2 separate regions of the Homo sapiens genome follow, and region 2 is linked to region 1. The links come from fine-mapping of genetic effects on gene expression. A gene starts in region 1. The other region holds a variant in brackets. All regions are shown on one strand. Distances are from middle to middle. Region 1 holds the start of COL27A1 (collagen type XXVII alpha 1 chain). Region 2 overlaps KIF12 (kinesin family member 12).

Region 1 (5,361 bases):
ACCATATGGAAATTTTTGTCCCTGCCCCCACAGTGGCAGACCCTTTTCCCCCAGAGTCTTGTACAGGGGTTTGCATACTGTAGGAGTTAAAACAAATAACTTATTTAAATTACCAACGGTTTGAGCATCTATTGTATCCCAGGCTCCATGTGTCAGGCTGGGTGTGGGGACACAGAGATGGATCTGACAATGACAGCGCCATGTGATGTGTGCTGCAATCCCGGTGTAGGGCAGAGCAGCTCACCAGAGTCAGGTGAGCTCTGGCCTGCACCTAGAAGAATAACCAGGTTGTGAACAGGCAGAAAAGGGGCAGAGGGAGAACCTGGGAGGAAACAGTATGGAGAAAGCATCGAAGTAGTCAAGCTTACCTGAGCCTGGGTGCAGGTATCAGAGAGACTGGAGCTCAGGAGGCCGGATCTGAAGCTGGGGAGGCTGCTGAGGATCTGCACAGAACCCCTTAAAGCCTAAGATTTGGATCCTTATGACAAGATGCAGAAGTTTGGAGTTAGGTTACCTGGGTTCAAATCCCACCTCTACCACCTACCCGTTTATGTCAGCTTTCCCATCTGTAAATGGAGAGAAAAAAGCAGGCCTCCCTTAAACCCCAGCACTGTGTGGGTCAGGGTCTGGACTAGGGTGTGGCACATGCAGAGATGCAGCATACCAGGAGATGCCAAGAAAACTCAGCAACGGAGGTAAATTGCCCAAAGCAGTGCCCCAAACCCCTAAGTAATCAAAATAATATTTTAATTTTTTACTTTTAAAATATTTTTAAAAGTATCAAAATTAATGCAAAACCCCACAATGAACAAAATATCTAAAATGTAAATAAAGACAGGGTCTGCATGGTACCAAGTATGCAACTAAAAAAACATCAGTTATGATTGAAGAGGGAGTTCTCAACCTTAGGGGGCCGTGGACTTCTGAAAACCGGAGGAAAGCCCACGGCCCCTCTCCCCTGAAGAATGCACAAACATGCTCAATTTGTGCACAGTTTGGGGGTGTTCCTGCACTCCCTGGGGTTCGTGCACATGGAAGTTAAGAACTCTGGTTCAACATTGGGGGTGCGGGGGTGGCGGGGGTGGTTCCACGCGCCGGCCAGCAGCCTGCCAGTTCCCCAGTCCCGCGACTGGCCTCCCTCCTGGCAGCCATGGGTGCTCTGCCCTCTGCAGGAAGCAGCGCACAGCTATGCAGCTCCCCCAACCCCCCTACCTCCCCTCTCTCGGCTTGGGACTTTTCCTAAAGTTTGTTGAAACCAGACACCTTGCTCGACCGAGCCCGCGTGCAGCCAGGGTTTAAAAGGCCGCCTTCAGCGCCCCCTCCCCGCCCCCAGCGGAGACTTCAAAAGGCCCGGCGGGCGCCGCCGCCCCAGCACCTATGAGCCGCCCCCAGCTCTCGGAGCCCGCGCCGGAGCCCGTGGACGCAGAGCTGCCGAAGTTCGAGCGCAGGCGGACCGGGTCGGCGGCGCAGTCCCGCGCGCCCATGCCCCTCCCGGTGCCGCTGCGCTCCGCGCGCCCGCGCCCCGTTTAGGGAAGGGGACCTCGCCCCCCGCCCCCGCGCCCACGGCTGCGGGGACCCATGAATACAAATGCCGTTAGGCGCCGGAGGAAGGACCGACCGGCCAGCCTCGCACGTAGGGACCCAGTAAGTGCTTGGGGGCTCCTGGAGCGGTGCGAAGTGTTATATGCCTGTGTGTGCGCGCGCCTAAAGGTGTGCGCGTATGGGGAGGTGGGTACACGCGTGAGGAGTGAATGCGTGTGTGCACATGTGCGGTGGGCACTCTCGGAGAACTGTGTGCAAGTGAGGGTGTGCGCGCGTGTGTCCACCCGGGGTGTGTACATGTGTGGGGGCGATATGGCCAGGATAGCGTGCATTTGTGCCTGTGTAAGCATCCGTGTGCATGCTTCTGCGAGTGTAGAGTATCAGCGTGCGCCTGAGCCCAGATATCTGAGGATGCGTTTCGTGTGAACCTAGGAAGGGTGCGTGGCTGTCCCAGAATGGGACCGTGTGTGAGCGTGTGTCTGAGTTTGGGGAAAGGGTGGATACGTGTGGGAGTGTGTGTGTGCACCGGTGAATAAGTGTAACTTTGCTCGTGAACGAGTGGCAAGAGGTGGTAGAGGCGGAGGGAGCTGTGGTCCCAGGGCTGGACTGGAGTTTTGGGTGTGAGAATTTGCCCGGGGGCCAAGGTGTGCAGCTCTTAGCTCCCGGATGGGATCCGAGGGAGTTTTTGTCGATTCTGGGGAGGTGCGTGGTTAGTGGTGGTGGTGGGGTGCGGTTAGATTCCAATTGCTGACAGAAGGGAGAGAGAGGGTGGCAAACCCTTAACAAGCCCACCCTATATGTTCTCCAGGGCGCTCCGAGTCTGGGAGCGCAAACTTTTGGTGGGCGGTGGGGATCACGATACTGGTTGTCGTGGGCGTCTGGACACCAAGTTCTGGTCCTAGCTCCGTCCCTGAAACTGTGGGTTTCTTCCAGGAGTAGAATTTGGCCCTTCTCCCCTACCCCAACCCCCCATTGGAGGACCCCCAGCCTCACCAGTCAGAAGTTCCTAATCTCAGAACGGTGATCAAATCACCGTGAAGCCCTGGGCAGCCCCTTCCTCTCTGTGAATCTGTTTCCCCATCTATACAAGGAGGAGGGGGGCGGGTGTCCCATCGGGGCTGTAGTGGGCCAGCTGAGGCTGTACCCTTGGCTCCGGCCGGCAGGGGGCAGCAGGGGGCAGCAGAGGGCGGCCGGGAGCGGGGAGGAGGGAAGGTGGAGAGCCACCGCGGGCCGAGACTTTAAATCGCCTTCATTTCCCCCAAATCCTTCCTTTTCCTCTCCTCCCCCAGGCCGGCGGGGAGGCAGCTTCCACCGCCCTCCGCGCGCCCTCACCCGGCCTTGCTCTGCCTCCGGGGACCGCCAGCAGCCCGCCTCCAAAAGTTTGATCATCTCTCTCTCTCTTTTTCTTGCTTCTTCTTCCTTTTTGGTGGAAGCAGAAAAGGACCGAGGCAGGGGCGAGCGCGGCGCCCGGACTCCTGGGACCATGGGCCTGGCGCGGGCGCCCGCGGGGCCCCAGCCGCGCTGCCTGCCTGCTCGGGCGCCCCTGGGCGCGGGGCTGCGCTGGGGGCGCGGGGGCCGCGCGCTCTAAGCCGGCCTGGCGCGGCGGGGCGGGGGGCTGGCGGCCCCATGGGGCGCGCCCACACTTGCCCCCCGGGCTCGGGAGCATGAAGTAGGGGCCTGCCATGGGAGCGGGATCGGCGCGGGGGGCCCGAGGCACAGCGGCGGCGGCGGCGGCGCGCGGGGGGTGAGTACGAACTCGGGGACGCCCCCTCCCTAGCTTCCTGCTGCTCCAATCTCGGGGAGGGCCGGGGTTCCCCGCCATGCGGTCGCTTCCAGCGGAACGTCAGCTTCCTGCCCCTTCCTGCGCCCCCGCGAGGCGGGACGCCAAGGGTTAATAGGGGCTGCGCCCCCGGCCGGGCGAGAGTTGGCGAACGCTGCCCGCCCTGCCGCGCCTGGCCCGGCTGCCCGATCCCGTTGGGGCGGGGGCAGAGCCAGCCCGGGGGTCGGGGGTGGGGGTGGGTGGTGGCGCCTGGAGCGGCCGGCGGGGTGCGGAGGGGGGCTTTTTGGATGCTTGGGGGAGGAGGGGGGTCTCCGTTTGGGGCCGTCTCGGTGTGTTCCGGTGTCTCAGTGTCTGCAGGTCCCAAGCCTGTACGTCTCCGTTTCTATCTGTTCTTGTGAAATTGTCCGCAAGTTTCTAGGTCACCAGGTCTCGGGTTCTGCTCCTGTCTCCGTGTCTGTGTGGCTCTGCACGTCCCCGCGTTTCTGGAAATCTCCGCGTGTTTGTGTTAGTCGGCCTGGGTCTGTGTGTCTGTGTTTCCTGCTTCTCGGTTCCTGTCCCTTTCACGTGTGTAAGAGAGAAAAAGTGAGAGCCAGCATGTCAGAGCAGAAAGGGCCCTGGGCGATCACTGTGCGGAACCCCTCAGTGTACAGATCGGGAGACAGGGCCGGAGAGGGGCAGGGACTCTCCCAGGAGCGGCTGCGCGGAGCTGGGGCCCAGAGGCTGGGATTCCCAGCGTGTGGAGTAGGAGTTGTAAGAGAGAGTGAGCCTGTGCTGGAGCCGGCGCAGCGTGTGGGTGTGTGTGGGAGCCAGCAGCATGCAAGCAGCCCGTTGGGGCCTGTGGACGGCGCTCCTCTCTTTCCATCCTGCCCCCAGGACACCAGGACACTCCCCAGAGGCTGTTAGGGCTGTAGCTGGGCCCTGCCCCCTTTGAGCTGGAGTCCGCGGGATGACACCCCCTCCTTTCTTCCCCATGTCTTGGAAAAAGCTGGCTGTTTGCGATTCCCCCGCCCCGCACCCCCTCACCACAACACACACACACACACACACACACACACATACGCGCGCGCGGCACCAGTGAGCACACTGCTGACTCATTTTCTCCAGAAGACCCTGCGCCAGGGTAGATGCCAGCAGTTGGGCAGAAAAGTGGTGCCAGGCGAGCACCCCATGGTGGGGCTCCAGCTGTGGGCAAGTGGGCAGTCAACACTGCTCGGAGGCCCAGTCTCTGCCTTCTCCTGCCTCCCTGCCTCCCTTGACATCACGTTGTCCTGCATCATGTGCGCTCTGGCGCCAGCATACCTCTGCTCTCCAGCATGCCTCTGCTCTCCAGCATGCCTCTGCTCCTGGACCCTTCTGGCCGGACCAAACTCCATGTCATGTCTATGGACACATCCCTGGCCTCTGCCTCCTTCTGTTTCCTCCCTGTACTCAGAACATTCTCCCTCTCCTGTGCCTCCACCAGCGCTGCGGACCCTCAGCAGCCAGCAGCCTCCTGGTGGTCTCTGTCCCTTTCTGAGCACACTCCCCTGTTCTTTGTTGGCATTTTCTCTCCTCCATCTCTGTCCAGGGACCCTCTTGATACCCACATGCCTGGCTTGGCTACGCAGAGTAACATATCCACTGGTGGTAGGGGACAGCAGTGAGACACTCACAGAATCATGTTGGTGGGAGGCAGGCGGCACCACAGGAGGGCCATGAGGCTTGCCATCAGGCAGGCTCGAGTTTGAATCCTAACTCTGCTGTGCCAGCTTGGGTGAGCCACTCTGCTGCTTGTTTTTCTCTTCCACAAAACCGGCACCTTATTCCTAGCTGGCTGGGTTTTGTGAAGATGAACAGGACCATGCTTGTAAAGGGCTTAGAACAGGGCCTGGCATGTAATAAGTGCTCAGTAAACGGCAGCTGGTATTTGTATTATTCCCTTCATGTTGAATGGGTGTGTGAGTCAATGGGAAAGTTCTGGGCTGCATCCTCTCCAGACGATGACCTGTCTGTGTTCCCATGGAGGACGTGGAAGCTGTGAAGAAAGCCCAGGCATAGCC
Region 2 (5,361 bases), 63 kb before region 1:
GCTCCCCTCTGCCCTTGGCACAAGCCCAAACTCTGGCTGTGACCTGGAAGGCCCTGCACTTCCTGGCCCCGACAAGCTCTGGAACCTCAGGGGTCTGTAGCCTTTGTGTCCACAGCCCCTCCACCTTCCCTTGAACCCAATGCTGTCTACCTTCCTACAAGCCTTAGTCATGGCCTCCTTGGGAAACCTTCTCTGACCCCCTCAATGATCACTGATCAAGTGACCTTCCTTTGTGCCTCCACAGTCCCTTGGGCTTCCCCCAGCCCCTGTGAGGTTGTAAATGCCTGTCTGTCCCCCACCAGACTCTGAGCTCCCTGGAAAAGCCACCTTGGCCCTTGTCTCCATTGTCACCTTTTAGCTTGATTTGCAGTTGATGCCAGTGTTTTTGCTTTGTTGTTTTTCAAGGCTGGAGTGCAGTGGTGTGATCATGGCTCACTGCAGCCTCAGCCACTTGTTTTCAAGTGATCTGCCTCAGCCCCCTGAGTAGCTGGGACTATAGGTGTGTGCCGCCATGCCCAGCTAATTTTTTATTTTTTGTAGAGACAGGATCTTACTGTTTCCCAGCCTGGTCCTGAACTCCTGGGCTCAAGCAATCCTCCTACCTTGGCCTCCCAAAGTGTTGGGATTACAGGCACCCAGCCATCAGTGTTGTTTGTTGAATGAATGAATGAACAAATGAATAAATGATGTGGGTCTGTTTCCCTAACTATAAGTGAAGAGTTAGGTTAGCCTCATAGCTCTTTCTATAATGGGTCCTCTCTCTGCTTCCCGTAATTCCTCATGTCATACTGGACTTCTCCATAACCACAGACCCACTGTATCTGATATGGTTTGGCTCTGTGTCCCCACCCAAATCTCATGTTGAATTATAATCTCTAATATTGGGGGAGGGACCTGGTGGGAGGTGATTGGATCATGGGGGAAGATTTCCCCCTTACTGTTCTTATGGTAGTGAGTTTTCACGAGATCTGGTTGTTTGAAAGTGTGTAGCACTTCCCCCTTCATTCTCTCTCTCTCCTGCTCCGCCATGGTAAGATGTGCTTGCTTCCCCTTCGCCCTTCTGCCATGATTGTAAGTTTCCTGAGGCCTCCCAGTCATGCTTCCTATACAGACTGCAGGGCTGTGAGTCAAACCACTTTTCTTCATAAATGCCCCAGTCTCAGGTAGTTCTTTACAGCAGTGCTGAGAACAGACTAATACAGCATTTTACTGGGCACTTATGCCATGAATCAGATATTGCTCACAGCCTTGACCCTCACTAGAACTCAGTGGGAAGGAAACTGTGTCCCCCACTTAATTGACTGAAAACCAGAGTGGTCCAGAGAGGGAACAGGACTTGCCCAGAGTCCTAGCGTAGATCTGTGGCACAAGAAGCCAGGCCTCCTGATCCCCACCAGCGCCAGGACCCATAGTGACACAGAGTGAGCCCCTTGACCACCCATCTCCCTGTGCTCCAGGCCAAATCAGTTTCCCTCATGCCTCCTTCATGGAGATGCTTGCCATTCAACTCCCCCACCGCCTACCCAATGGCATATAGCAGTTGCTTAATCAAAACTTGTATAATATGTGAAAGGAGGCTGGCTCACGCCTAGAATCCCAGCACTTTGGGAGGCCGAGGCAGGTGGATCACAAGGTCAGGAGATCGAGACCATCCTGGGTAACATAGTGAAACCCCATCTCTACTAAAAAAAAAAAAAAAAATACAAAAATTAGCTGGGCGTGGTGGCGTGTGCCTGTAATCCCAGCTACTTGGGCGGCTGAGGCAGGAGAATCGCTTGAACCCAGGAGGCGGAGGTTGCAGTGAGCTGAGATTGCATCACTGCACTCCAGCCTGGTGACAAAGCTAGACTCCGTCTCAAAAAAACAAAACAAAACAAAACAAAAAACCATGAAAGGAGATGGGAGATGGAAGCTTGGGATATTCCAGACTGGAAGGGGACACACATCTGTGCCAAGAGTCCTAGCCCTTCCTCCCTCTAATTTCCCACGGGGAAATAACTGATAACCCCAGAGGATAGAACCAACCAGACTTGGAGCTGATGCCTCTCTTTATTCATGTATTTCATCCCCTGCTGCCTGGTTTCTCCTGAATCCCCTTGTTCCCCTAAATAGCACCCCCAGTCCCCGCCCCTAGCCCAGCTGCAGGTGGAGTAGCAGCTGCTGTCTCCATTCAGCAGATGGGCAGACTGAAGCCCAAGAGTGTGGAGCCCAGTCTGAGGTCACACAGCAGTCTCCTGGGTTCCCACTTGGCCTTCAATGGGGAGGGAGGACTTGGCCTGGGCTCCGTGCGCCCTC[A/G]CTGCAGGGTGGCTGGCTGCGGCCACGTCGCAGGGAGCTGCCAATCTGGTCTCTGAGGGCCTCCAGTCTCTGGGCCAGGTTTGGAACCCCGGCCCCACCTAAGGAGCAGTGAGACTCGAGGCCTGCCCTCTCCAGGGCCCTTCCTCACCCAGGTCCATCTGGGTCCCAACACCCTCTGGAGAAGCCTCAGGGGGTAGGTACCCTCCACCCTTCCCCCCACCCCACCCCCATACACCATGGGCTCCAACATACATCTGGGCACGCAGATGCTCCTAAAAAGAGAATTCCAAGTTTGGGAAGTAGAAAGATCTTAGAAGCCACCTCTCAACACCCACCCCATTTCAGAGATAAGACTGAGGCCTGGAGAGGGTGGGTTCTACCCCAAGATCACAGAGAACATTAGGGGCCCCTCCCTCTCTCCCTTCTTCACCTCTGAGCCCTGGTGATGTCTTCGGGGGCCTCACAGGCAGGGGAGGTGCAGAAGGTACCACCTCCTCCTCCGTCAACATCTCTGCCAGGACTCGGGTCTGAGTCCAGTCACTGTGACTCCTGGGCCAGGGTGAGTTGGGAGATGGGAGGTGAGCCTTTGAGTTCCCCAGACCACCCCTCTCTGACCTCAGTGCCCCAGGAGAGACCCACCTCTCTCTTGGGCACTTGGCAGAGCCAGGGCTGCATGGGGGTGCCCAGGGTGGGGGCCGGGCAGATGGGGGCCTGCCACCTGAGGCCTCAGGGTCCAACACCTGTAGGAAAGACCAGAGTCCACTCTGGGTGACCTCAGTCCTGCCTCTCTGTGTCCCACCTACCTGGTGCTAGCCATGACACCCCACCATGCCTACCCCACAAGGTACCAAGAATGTCAGGATGGCATAAAGGGGTGGGGTCTTGGTCGCCTTCTGTGTGCAGCAGATGGTTCTTCTACCGTCCTCTCCTGAGACTAGAAGCCTCCTGAGAGCAGGAACCACGTCTGGTCTATTTCTGACTCCTCAGAGCCCAGAAGAGAGGCTGGTATAAAGCAAGGAGCTTGGGGAGTTACTGAAGGAGTAAGTGAATGTATGATTCAGTAAATCCATAAGTGAGTAGATATGTGAGTGAATGAATAAGTGAATGACAGAATGAATTCCTGGCCCTGACAGGGCAGGGTGAGGAGGGGGGAGGGTGAGGCAAACAGCTATTTCAAACCAGGGCAGAGGGAGCCCTAGGCCAGCCATTCACTCCCCATGATCTAGCCTGCAGCCCTGGAATCCCTGGGGCTCTGGATTGATGACTCCTGGATCAAGGTCTCCAGTTCTCCCAGCCTTCCCTCACTCCCACCATGGCCTTTCCTACCTGGGGCAGGTGGTGCTCCCCTGGCAGGCAGGCCCAGTGGGCCAGGGGCACTCGACACAGTGGGCAGATGTGGCAGCAGGGGCAGGAGTAGAGGGGTGGCAGTGCCTGCAAAAAGGTGCGTCAGAGGCTCCATGACATCCCTACTTGTCACCCCTCCAGGCTGGGCCGTGAGACTCACATGGCAAGGGGGAGCTGGGGCCATCAAGCAGGGACACGGTGGGGTCAGGCCAGGACCCTGCTGGTGATGGTAGCAGGCAGAGAGGAGACGCCTAGAAAGAACAGCAGGGTCTATGCCTGCAGCCTCCAACCCTACCACCAAGCTGGCTTTCAAATCCCCTTCCCAGCTAATACTCCTGGATCCCGTACCAGGTACCGGGCCCCATTCTCAAAGTTTTACATGTTAACTTATTCTCTCTGATTTTTAAAACAAGCCTATAAGTAGGCACGACGATGAACCCCATCTTACAGAAGAGGAAACCCAGGCAGTGAGAAGTTAAATGACTTGCCCCAGGTGACACAGCTAGTAGGTGGCAGAGCTGGAAACTGAACCTAGTTGGTCTGAATCCAGAGGCCAGCCTCAAGCAGTTCATTAAGCCATCCCTTTTCCCAGCTGCCCTCTGTCCAGAGGCCTGGCTCCAAGCTGGTGGCTCTGCTTACCTCTCTAGTGCATGGACCTGCTGGGCCAGGATGCGCTGCTCATTCTGGGCCAGGTCTCGGCTATTCTGCAGCTGGCTCTTTTCTTTCCTAGGGGAGATCACAAGCCAGGAAGGGGTAGGAAATGGGGCTGGGGTGGGGCATCAGTCAGCTCCTCCTCATTGCAGCATAGCACCAGTTCAGGAAGCAGGTGGGGACATAAGGGAGCCAGGGGCAGGGAGAGGAGGCAGTTTGCCAGAAGCAGCCTAGCAGTGATGGGTGGGGAGCAGCATCCCTCTGGCTGTGGGCTGTGCCCTACCTGAGCCTCTCATTCTCTAGCATGAACTCCTGTAGCATCCCGTACAGGTTCCGCTGGGCCCAGGCCACCCGGGCTCCACTGAGCCCTGAGGCTGCAGGGAAGCAGGAGGTGGTGGATCCACAGGAGCCCCAGACCCTATCCCCATCCTACTCTGCCTCCAGGAAGCCCATACCCTTGCAGTCCATTTGGTCCAGCTGGAACTGCAGGCGACGGTTCTCCTCCTGGAGCTGCAGCATCTCTGTCTCCAAACGCTGGGGCTGCTTTGCCACAGGAGACTGTAGGGAAAGAGGCCCAGAGCCACCTTTATGGTTGTATAAGTCGTGCACTGCACAAGAACTTCCGGGTGTGGGAAGTAACTGGGGCCTAAAATCCAGCCCATGCTTCATTCGTCAGCCTTGCATCTTGGCACAAGGCTGTATCTGCCTGGAAGGGGCACCTTGTCCTAAGTGCACTGTCCTGGAGGGCCCCACTCTGAGCTGGACTCAGCTGTGAGTCCAATCCCAAACTCAGTTCTGTCCAAACCTTGGGCCAGATAATGGTTCCAAACGAGACCCCACATTAGGCCCCACATCAACTCCCACTTAACCATGATACTAACTGAGCTAGACCCTGAATCATATCCCAACTCAAACTCCAACCCTAGACCTGCCCTAAACCTGGCATGACCCTGGCTGGGACCCTGACCCCATCCTATACAACCATGATACCGATTCCAGGATTCCAACCCTAATCCCAACTTTGACCCAGTCCAAGACTTCAATCAAGGGACTCAGGCTCCAACTCCTGCC

Evidence for each region. PIP is the estimated chance that this variant, and not a neighbour inherited with it, causes the effect.
Region 2: its variant is the best candidate, but not a certain one, in a credible set for the expression of COL27A1 in aorta (GTEx, PIP 0.63).

What each region holds. Positions count from the first base shown.
Region 1 is chr9:114,152,727-114,158,087 of GRCh38, forward strand. COL27A1 (collagen type XXVII alpha 1 chain) reads left to right here and starts at 2,811. Exons shown (of 61, transcript NM_032888.4): 1 at 2,811-3,286. The coding sequence starts at 3,225. It overlaps LOC105376225 (a long non-coding RNA gene), which reads right to left and starts at 1,542. Exons shown (of 5, transcript XR_930256.3): 1 at 369-1,542; 2 at 114-271. RefSeq lists an enhancer at 618-1,139 and silencers at 2,676-2,795, 3,683-3,977.
Region 2 is chr9:114,089,608-114,094,968 of GRCh38, forward strand. It overlaps KIF12 (kinesin family member 12), which reads right to left. Exons shown (of 19, transcript NM_001388308.1): 12 at 4,746-4,848; 13 at 4,574-4,664; 14 at 4,279-4,365; 15 at 3,800-3,890; 16 at 3,622-3,726; 17 at 2,935-3,035; 18 at 2,726-2,844; 19 at 2,031-2,393. The coding sequence ends at 2,254. Among named protein-coding and RNA genes, the nearest start is that of KIF12, 7.0 kb to the right of the region's middle. The variant A/G (reference allele first, on the strand shown) is at 2,296.